2 separate regions of the Homo sapiens genome follow, and region 2 is linked to region 1. Evidence: fine-mapped expression QTL. A gene starts in region 1. The other region holds a variant in brackets. All regions are shown on one strand. Distances are from middle to middle.

Region 1 (5,383 bases):
CATTAACTAGGGAACAGAAATCTTGTAAAATTACTCTTAAAAGTTACCAAATTACAGAAGCATCTTCCAATGAAAAGCAGCTCTCTAATTTTTTTAACATTTCACAACATGGGCTCCTAAAGCAACACTAAAGAATCATAACGGGAGGCCCTTTTCCTGTTATTTTGCAAAGACTGGGTTATGGAGGGAGTGTTTAACTGCTACTGTACTATACAATTTCTGTGTCAACAGCACACGCCTTCGAAAAACTCATCTATTAAAAAACTTCCCAAAGTAGGGAGTTTTTGTTTCTTTTAATTTATGAAGCCAAAATACATTTGGAAAAAAGAATATGCCTCACTGATAATATGAAATGAAAACTGCACCCTACAGTCAGCAAACTGAACGCTGGTTTTAAATAACTGATTTAATAAGAACTTAACATGCGTGCAGAAGGCTGATACAGCCTTAAAGAATGACAACAAAAATTAATACTGCACTCGACACAGGCCACCTTACATCCAACGGAGCCTGAATAGCAGCCATCATTACAAATGTCAAAATCAATATAGTACTATGCACCATCCACCTTCTTGCAATAATAAAGAAACCAACTCAGATTTCTTGGTGGTGTAATCACAATTATGACTGAGGCAGAAATGTACGCAACACAATGAAGAAAATACCACAAATCAAAACCACTCTATGTAAAAACATAAAATTGCTCACTGGGGGATGGGGGGGACATTTTGCCATCCAATAAAAGGAATCTGGCCAAATCCCACCTGACCATTCACGTGCCCTTCATTGAAGACCAAACCTGCTTTCCTTATTTCTCCTTTCTTTCTCTTCCTAGCCTCCCATCATCTCCCTTAACCTGTACGAGAAGACAGGCACGGGGAGGGAGGGATTCGAGAATCGGGAACAAAAACCGAGATGTGGACCACATCAGGAGGAAGAGGGGAGGGAAAGGGTGACACCACTAACCTGTCCCAAAGGCTTTGGCCACCAGCCAGGCCAGATTGCAGGCGATTTTGGCCCTGGAGAAATCATAGTGGTCAAAAGGCTTGATGGCTGGAACAATGAACGTCTTTCTCATCTCCCTGGGGTCTGCAGCATCCCCCATCTTTCACCGCGGCTCCTCGGGATGTCCCGGCCCTAACCTTCACATGGCGTGGCCTCGCCACCACGGGGGTCGGGAGGGAGGGAGAAGCAAGCTCAAACCATCGGGGCCCGGGCGATGTCCGCCCGGGCGCCGACGGAGGAGAAGCTCAGCTGTCCGCGCCGCGCGCCTGCCGCCTCCCGCGGGAGCCGCCGCCGCCGCCGCCGCCGCTCCCGGGCATAGGAATGTGGCGGCGCCGTCTCCGTCCGTCCGTCCGCGCGAGGTCCGCCCCGTGCCCGCGCCCCTCCGAGCCACCCGCCCCGCGAGCCCGCGTGTGAGCGAGGCCGCCTCCCCTTTGTCTCGGTTTAGTCACACGGGCTTGGGGGAGGGTGGAGGCTGGAAGGGCCCGGAATTTTAAGGGAGGGGGGATGGGGGGAGCCTTCAACAATCACGTTGTGGAAAATGTCCCCGCCATCGCGATGCCCGCACGCCCTCGCCTCCCTCTCCCCTTCCCTCGGAGCGGGGAGACCCCTCAGGCCCCGGGTGGGCGGAGGGACGAGCAGGACGAGGGGGAAGCGCGGGGCGAGCTGGCCCACCCAGCGCAGCCCGGCCCCTGCCCGCCGGAGACGCAGCAGCGGAAAACGTCAAAATCACTGCGGCTCACAGGCCGCCGCCGGCCCGTCCCCTCCTCTGTGCTCCCTCCCGTCGCCGTCTCCTCCTTCCCCTGCCGCCGTCGCCGCTGCCGTCTCCCGGGTCTTCCTCCCTTGCTGACGGCGAAGGTGGTGGCCGGGGAGAGGCCGCGAATCCCAAGCTCTCAGTTCCTGTCTTATCAGTAATGTCCTTGTAATTTTTTCCTGCCCCCCTTTCTGCAGCTCGCTGGATCGTTCCCCCTCAGCCGCCGCCGCCGCCGCTGCGGTTTTCCGGCTGCGGCACTGGATGAAGGAGCAGATGCGGAGACTGAGCATGCGCCTTCGCGCGGCTCCGACCCACCCCCCCCAACCCCCGCCCCCGCCCCCGCCCCCTCCCCGCTTCCCTCCCGTCTCCGGCCCACTGAGCATGCCCAGCCTCGCTCCCCGCCCGCGCCCGGGATTCGGGGCGGCTGCCTTTTAATCATCGCTCTGGAGTACTCGCTTCAGTGGACATCCTCCACGTCCCTGGCTTTTGGCTGCTGCTGCCTGCACTGCTGAGAGAGGAAAAGGAAGGGAGGGAGGAGGGAGAGGCCTGGCAATAGCTTTCGTATTCTACTTACACAGTGCTTCATCGAAAAGAGTTGATATTTACTTAAAATGTTCATTATGTGACACACACTTTGCAGCGAACTTGACCTGCACTATCTCATTTAGCCCTCGCAATAATCCTGAGAGGTAGATGTCATTGCTGATTGTCCACGAAAGAGAGGTGGAGTTGATTAGGTCATACATGGAACTTAACCAGGATTGAGGATCTGTGGGGGCTCCAAACCTGTGTTAATTTCATGATATCGAGATATTTTCTTAACTCAGTGCTCTCCACTTAAATTTTATCTCTGAGAGGGCACACGTCCAACAATGCCTCCCCATTCTCTCAGAAAAGAGCATAAATTCTTTCACAAAACAAGCTAATGCCCTTTGTGATCTGGCATCTACAGGCCTTTATAGCTTCATTTTGTCAGAACTGCTCTCTATTTTCTTCAATGAGCATGCCTTCTCAGATCTCTACCTCCTTGCTCAGGGTGGTTCCTCTGTCCACCCAGCTTACTCCTACTGCACCTTCAAACTCCACAGTAGTCACTTCCTCCATGAAGCCTTCCCTGACAGCTGCTGACAACTTTCCAGTCAGGGCTGTCACACAGGTGCCTCCCCTGTTGTTCCCGGAGCACCCTGTTCTTATTTCTGTCGTAGCATCTGTCACATCGTGTGGCAATAATCAGTTACTTGTCGGTTTTTCCCATTGATGACATGATGACAGGGTATATCTCCAGCAGCTATACGGTGCCCAGCCCCATAGTATAATTGCTCAATTAATGGACTACATGTGAATATTATCAAAGTTAACACATACTGAGCTTACTTAAATCACTAGCTCCTCACGTCTCATTTTAATACATTATCTAATTTTATTTTTAAGTGATTGTTGTTGTTATTATTATTATTATTGAGACGGAGTCTTGTTAAGTCGCCCAGGCTGGAGAGTGGTGGCAAGATCTCAGCTCAGTGCAATCTCCACCTTTAGGGCTCAAGCGATTCTCCTGCCTCAGCCTCCTGAGTAGCTGGGACTACAGGCGCGCACCACCACGCCCAGCTGATTTTTTGTGTATTTAGTAGAGATGGGGTTTCACCATGTTGACCAGGCTGCTCTCGAACTCCTGACCTCAGGTGATCCGCCAACCTCAGCCTTCCAAAGCGCTGGGATTACAGATGTGAGCCACTGCGCCCAGCCTATTATTATTATTTTTTGAGACAGGGTCTTGCTTTGTTGCCCTGGCTGGAATACAATGGCAAAATCACAGCTCACTGCAGTCTCAACCTCCCAGGCTCAAGCAATCCTCCCATCTCAGACTCCCATATAGCTGGGATTACAGGCACACATCACCACACCCAGCTAATTTTGTTTATTTTTTGTAGAGATGAGGTCTCCCTATGTTGCCCAGGCTAGTCTCAAACTCCTGGACTCAAGGGATCCTCCCACCTCAGCCTCCCAAAGCGCTAGCATTATCTAATTTTAATCATTATAAAATCCTGTATTATCTTCATTATACAGATGAGAAAACTAAGGCTCAGAAAAAAAAATTAATTACTCTTATTCTGCACAACTAGTAAAGGCAGAGGGCAGCTCCATCAAAAAGCAGGTCCCTTTGTTTCTGTTTAATCCCTGTAAACACTCCTCCTTAAACCTAGTAGGACACAACAGATGAGGCTTGCTAACAATGTGGGATATGAAAAGAATTTGAAAATAATAATATGCCAGAGGGTGGTTGATGTAATTTTTCCAATAATTTAATTAATATTAATAGGGTTTTTCTCATGGGCAAGGAAGGCCCTTTGCTGTATCACATGGAGGTTAATAAAATTAACAGATAGATAACAACTCACAAAGCATGTTCATATGATAACTAATTTCCATATCTATTTTATGAAGTAGGAATTATTATTGTCTTCCAATTCTAGATGCAGGACTGAGAATTGCAAAGATTAAGTGGCATGGCCAAGATTTCATGGTTGATTCATATCTGAGTCTGGCTTCAAATTCAAGCACAGGTCTTCTGGCTCCACTCCTCTGGCACTTTTCCCTGTGCCTGCTCTCTTTCCGCATTATGGAGGCTAACATGTACATAAATAAATTTATAATACAATGTAAAAGTGATAAGTGCTGTAAGAGATATAAAGTGCAGTCAGGGGCCAAGCACAATGGCTCATGCCTGTAATCCCAGCATTTTGGGAGGCTGAGGCAGGTGGATCACTTGCGGTCAGGAGTTCAAGACCAGCCTGGGAAACATAGCAAAAACCTGTCTCTACTAAAAGTACAAAAATTAGCCAGGCCTGGTGGCACACACCTGTAATCCCAGCTACTCATGAGGCCAAGGCACGAGAATTGCTTGAGCCCAGGAGACAGAGATTGCAGTGAGCAGAGATCGCACCACTGTACTCCAGCCTGGGCAACATAGCAAGATTCTGTCTCAAAAAAAAAAAAAAAAAAAAAAAAAAAAAAGGCCGGGTGCGGTGGCTTATGCCTGAAATCCCAGCACTTTGGGAGGCTGAAGGAAGGTGGATCACAAGGTCAGGAGTTCGAGATCAGCCGTGCCAAGATGGTGAAACCCCATCTCTACTAAAAATACAAAAATTAGCTGGGCGTGGTGATGTGCGCAAGTAGTCCCAGATGCTTGAGAGGCTGAGGCAGGAGAATTGCTTGAACCTGGGAGGCGGAGGTTGCAGTGAGCTAAGATCATGCTACTACACTCCAGCCTGGGCAACAGAGCGAGAATCCATCTCAAAAAAAAAACAAAAACAAAAAACAAACCAAAAAAAGCTTGCAGGCAGACCATATATAGGTGGAGGGATTGGGAAGGTTTCTTGGAGACATCTGTTGAATCTAATGTTCTCAAATGCAACTTTGACTGAATTCTAGAGCACATAAATCATGTTAGGAAGAACCTATAGCCCAGAAAGGTTGAAGAGAGATACTGAAACATTTTACCAGTCATTATAATAATCTGCAAGCCAATACAAGATTCTCAGGGCCAGAAATCGTGCCTAATCACCTTGATGTTGCATGTGACCTAGCACAGTAGTTTGCTCTCAATGGGTGCTGGGTAAATACTTGTTG
Region 2 (5,383 bases), 33 kb after region 1:
TCTTAAATATTAAATACCATATAGCTTTCTTATTTACTTTGTCTATAGTTGTAGTTTTCCTTCATTAGACTCGAAGCTCCACATGTGTCATTCACTGCCATATCCTAATAGCACAGAACAGATCTTGGCATAGAATGGCACTCGATTAGTGTTGGTTGAATGAAGAAATGAATGGGTGAATAAATTAGCAAGGATTCTATTAGTTGACTTCTCTGTGGTACTTTGGAAATCACTAGATACTCTCAGTTCTGCTTGGCAATGTGTTATGTGAAGTGACAGCTGCTGCTCTGACTTGCTACAGCTAATGATGCTCAGAAATGGGCACTTCGTAGGATGTCCTTCTGCCTGCTGCACTTTCAGGTACCCCCACACTCAGTCATCGCAGTCACTCCATCTTGTATGCACTATTGCAGATCTTTGTTTCGAATCCAGTTGTCTTTTGTCTGGGCCATTGATCTTTTTGGCCCTCTATTTTTGCTTCCCGAGACTCCTTCATTGGGTCCCCCACCTCAGGCCCCCATTGCTGTTCACCTGTACCCCAGGCAGTTCTGATTTTGTACCCCCAAAATTCTAGCTGAGGTCAGAGCTCTGGACTCTCCACTACCAGGGAAGAAAAATTGGATATTTGATTCATTTCCCTACTTTTAAACAACCAGCAGGAAAATGAAGGGTTGGCTGATTTATCTGTGGAATAAGCAAATTCAGATTCAGATGATGACAAATAATCTAGACAATTCAGTTTCTGGGCTTGTTTTCCTGAATCATCCAGAGCATTAACACGGCAAATAAAACCCACCAGATAATCTTATTATCTTTCATCTTTTTCTCCATATCGTGGTAGTTTCTCAAGACAAAATATGGCTATTTGCTTTCTTTGAGAGCAAATGTCGATCTTGTACTTAATCTGCCTTCTGCTAAACTAGGGCACAGTAGACTCCTCCTTGTGACTAATAGAGATTCCAGAAATGGAAATTAGGATACAATTTTTAACCTTTACAGAATGAGAAGCCTTGGAGCTAAGCTTTCTTTACATTGTTTAAATCCTTGAAATAAGTCATAATTGCTTCATGGCCCAGCTATCTCATTCCTATAGGACCGAAATCTTACCAATCTTGATTTCTAGTTTGACAAGAGGATAAAAAAGAAAATCCTGTGAGAAGCTAGTATCCTTTTAGATAAGTTATTTCTGTGTCTCTCTGGAAATGATCTTGCAAAGGGCTAATGATACATAATCAGATTTACAGAGCAACATGAGTCACATCATCTCATTTGATTCTGCTAATATGCTTAGTGATTAGACAGAAAAAAATATATTGTTGTTCCCATTTTTAAAACAGAGAAAGTGGAACATAGCATTTTCAGAAATCTGGGCCACAGATCATTGGTAAAACAGTAAGCCTGTAGTTTTGATTCCCAGTTCATTAGGAAGTTAATGTAAGGGTGGCCAGGCGCAGTGGCTCATGCCTGTAATCCCAGCACTTTGGGAGGCCGAGGCGGGTGGATCACGAGTCAGGGGTTCAAGACCAGCCTGATCAACATGGTGAAACGCTGTCTGTACTAAAAATATAAAAATTAGCCGGGCGTGGTGGTGGGCGCCTGTAATCCCAGCTACTCAGGAGGCTGAGGCAGGAGAATTGCTTGAACCTGTGAAGCGAAGTTTGCAGTGAGCTGAGATCACACCACTGCACTCCAACCTGGGCGACACAGCGAGACTCCATCTCAAAAAAAAAAAAAAAAAAAGAAAAAGGAAGTTAACATAAGGGCAATAAGTATTAGGGAGAGGTCCCCAGGAAGAAGGTGAGAAGGACTGCAGAAAAGAAAGAACTGAATTATCAGCAACATAAACACCAGCAACAAATATTTACCTAGAATCGACTGCATGCTAAGTCTGGGGATATAATGAGACAAATAATAAGAAGAATAACCCTGCTGTCAAGGAATTTGTAGTGACATGTAGGGTATAAACATTAAAATAAATGGTGACATAAATGAGAAAGACTAGATGTAGGGTGACCACATTTTTCAACTGAAAATTAGGTTTTGTGATCTGAGGGTGCTTACAGAGACAGAATATTTTATTTCATTGCCAATCAGCAATATGGAACTCAGAGGAAGGAGTGATTCTTAAGAATCTGGGCTGGCTTGTTAGACAATCTTGTCTGATGCCATGGGCAACTCTAGCTAGGCCCCCACCCTATGAGGGGAGAGTTAAGCCACTAGTCTCTACTTTTATCTTGTATAACACAATTTCCTGAAGACATTTTCTCCCCAAAATGCTCCTGTATTTCACTGTGGCAGCAAGACATCCAGCTTCCAGATGGAAAAATGAGATGCCAGTCTCCTCTCCTGTAGATAGCGCCGATCTCTAAAGTAGATCATTTGGATCCCTTCCAAGTGGAACTGCTTCTTTTGACTTGCTGGTGGGAGAGGAAGCATGTTAATAAGGCATTCTAATTATACGAATTCTCTTACTACCAAGAAGCTCATTAATAAATCTCCCCTTTTCTTACCAACTTGGAGATGGGTAATAGTAGTGATTATTAAAGATCAGGAGCCCAGTGTGGTGGCTCATGCCTGTAAGCCCAAACATTTGGGAGGCCAAGGTGGGAGGATCACTTGAAGTTGGGAGTTCAAAACCAACCTGGGCAACAAAGCAAGAC[C/T]AGTCTCTGCAAAATGAATAAATAAAGAAACAAAAATTAGCCAGGCATGGTGGTGCGTGCCTGTAGTCCCAGCTACTTGGGAGGCTGAGGTGGGATGATCCACTGAGTCCAGAAGGTTGAGGCTGCAGTGAGCCGTGATGTGGCCACTGCACTCCAGCCTGGGTGACAAAGCGAGACCATGTCTCAAAAAACAAAAAACAAAGATCGGTTTGGTCACCTTTTAGTAAGTCTTGCATGAATGTATCTAACATCTCTCTTTTGAACACAGGGGCATTTGTCACCTGTCATCCACAGCTTTGAGGCTGGTGCTGAAATTTTCAGACAAGAAAATCTCTTTCCACATCCAATGACATGGGCAATGGGAGTCTGAGGAAGGGGAAGACATAAGGAAAGGGAATACACTTAAATTTTTCTGTTTTACAATTTGCCTAAGGCCCTGGTGGTCTTCCTACAGGCCTCAGCAAACTGTCTTAAATGATGAGTTTGGCTCTGCCTGGTGCTGTGGCTGCCTGAGTTAATACAGGTAGTGCCCACAGGCCTGAATAGTCGCTGCTGTGTGTTACAGGCAGCATCATATTCCCATCCACACTGAGTCAGTCTCTTTCTTGCTTTGCATTAGGGAGCATTGCTTTGCTTTATTTTTTCAGTCGCTATCTAATATTCTTTCAAGATGAACTTAAATACATATTTGTGCACCTAAATTTGAGTATTATTTTCTTTCTGTGTTATGTTTTTTGAGATGGAGTTTTGCTCTTGTTGCCCCAGGCTGGAGTGCAATGGTGCAATCTCGGCTCACTGCAACCTCCGCCTCCCAGGTTCAAGGGATTCTCCTACCTCCGGAGTAGCTGAGGTTACAGGCATGTGCCACCATGCTTGGCTAATTTTTGTATTATTAGTAGAAACGGGGTTTCACCATGTTGCCCAGGCTGGTCTTGAACTCCTGACCTCAGGTGATCCACCTGCCTCGACCTCCCAAAGTGCTGGGATTACAGACTTGAGCCACCATGCCCAGCCTAAAGTAATTTTTTAAGCCAATATGTGACTGTATACTGTCTCCAAAATGGACATTTAGCATATTCCTCTGATATGTGCACTCCATGCAGATTGTGGTAAACATTTGACGTATTGAAGGGAAAAACTTGGGCTTGGCTTAAAAAAATTCTCCATTTGATTTTTTGAACATTACAGCAGTAACCCATGCTTGCAATAACAAGTAAAATTACATGGTACAAACATATATAAAAGATGAAGCTAATGATCTCTTCTTCTATTTATGTGGTATAATTTGCATAATAAGACACAGGGTCTGACTGTATTTTTTTTCCAGATGGATAGACAGTCCACCTATAGCTACATGTCTTCAATAACAGATGGCATTTATTTCTCTCATTTTTCATGCCCTTTGAAATATTTTAAAAGTTCAGGCCAGGCACGGTGGCTCATGCCTGTAATTCCAGCACTTTGGGAAAGTCCCGCTGAGGTGGAAGGATGGCTTGAGCTCAGGAGTTTGAGACCAGCCTGGGCAACAAGAGTGAGACCTTGTCTCAAAAAAATAAATAAAAATAAAAACTTAGAAGCTATCTATTTCTAATTGAAATTGTAATGAGATAATCATAGATTAACATGCAGTTATAAGTAAAAATACAGAGAGATGCCTTGTACCCTTTGCCCAATTTCCCCAGTGGTAACATTATGGAAAACTACAGGACGATATCAGAACCAGGATATTGACATTGTACAATCCACCAATTTTATTCAGGCTTTCCCAGTTTTCCTTACTTGTATTGATTTTTGTGTATGCCTGTGTGTGTGTGTGTGTGTATATTTAGTTCTGTATAATATTATTCCATGTGTATCCACCATCATAGTCGAGATACTGAAGTTTCACCACCCCAGTAATTTTTCATGTTGCTCGTTTATGACACCAACCTCCCTACCCCTGTCCTTAACCCCTGGCAACTGCTAAACTGTTCTTTATTTCTTAATTTTTTTCATTTCAGAAATGTCATATAAATGGACTTATATAGTACGTATCCTTTTGGGTTTGGCTTTTCTTCCCTCAGCATAATTCCCTGACGACTAATCCAAATTATTGTATCTATCAATAGTTTGTTCATTTTTATTACTGAGTATTAGTCCATAGTGTGTATACACCACAACTTTAAACATTTTTAAATTGACAAATAAAAAGTATATATTTGTATGTATAATATGATATTTTGAAATATCTATACATTGTGTAATGACTAAATTGAGCTACTTAACATATGTATTATCTCACAGACACATTTTTGGGGGGCAAGAACACTTAAAATCTATGCAGCAATTTTCAAGTATACAATATATATTATTAACTATAGTCACCGTGTTGTACAGTCTCTTGAAACCTTATCCCTCCTGTCTAAATGAACTTCTGTATATTTTGACCAACATCTCCCCAATCTCCCCCACCCCTTTAGCCCTGGAAACGACCATTCTACTCTCCACTTCAATGAGTTCAACTTTGTTAGATTCCACATGTAAGTGAGATCCTGTGGTATCCGTCTTTCTGTATCTGGCTCATTTCACTTAACCTAATGTCCTTCAGATTCATCTATGTTGTTGCAAATGACAGGATTTCCAACGTTTTGATGGGTGAACAGTATTCCACTCTGTGTATATACCACATTTTCTTTATCCATTCATCTATCAGTAAACACTTAGGTTGATCTTGGCTACTGTGA

What was found. PIP is the estimated chance that this variant, and not a neighbour inherited with it, causes the effect.
Region 2: its variant is the best candidate, but not a certain one, in a credible set for the expression of CAMSAP2 in whole blood (TOPMed, PIP 0.58).

Annotation. Positions count from the first base shown.
Region 1 is chr1:200,735,550-200,740,932 of GRCh38, reverse strand. It overlaps CAMSAP2 (calmodulin regulated spectrin associated protein family member 2), which reads right to left and starts at 2,040. Exons shown (of 17, transcript NM_203459.4): 1 at 967-2,040. The coding sequence starts at 1,105. RefSeq lists silencers at 1,231-1,300, 1,331-1,690 and an enhancer at 2,331-2,410.
Region 2 is chr1:200,702,177-200,707,559 of GRCh38, reverse strand. No RefSeq gene overlaps it. Among named protein-coding and RNA genes, the nearest start is that of CAMSAP2, 34 kb to the left of the region's middle. The variant C/T (reference allele first, on the strand shown) is at 2,661.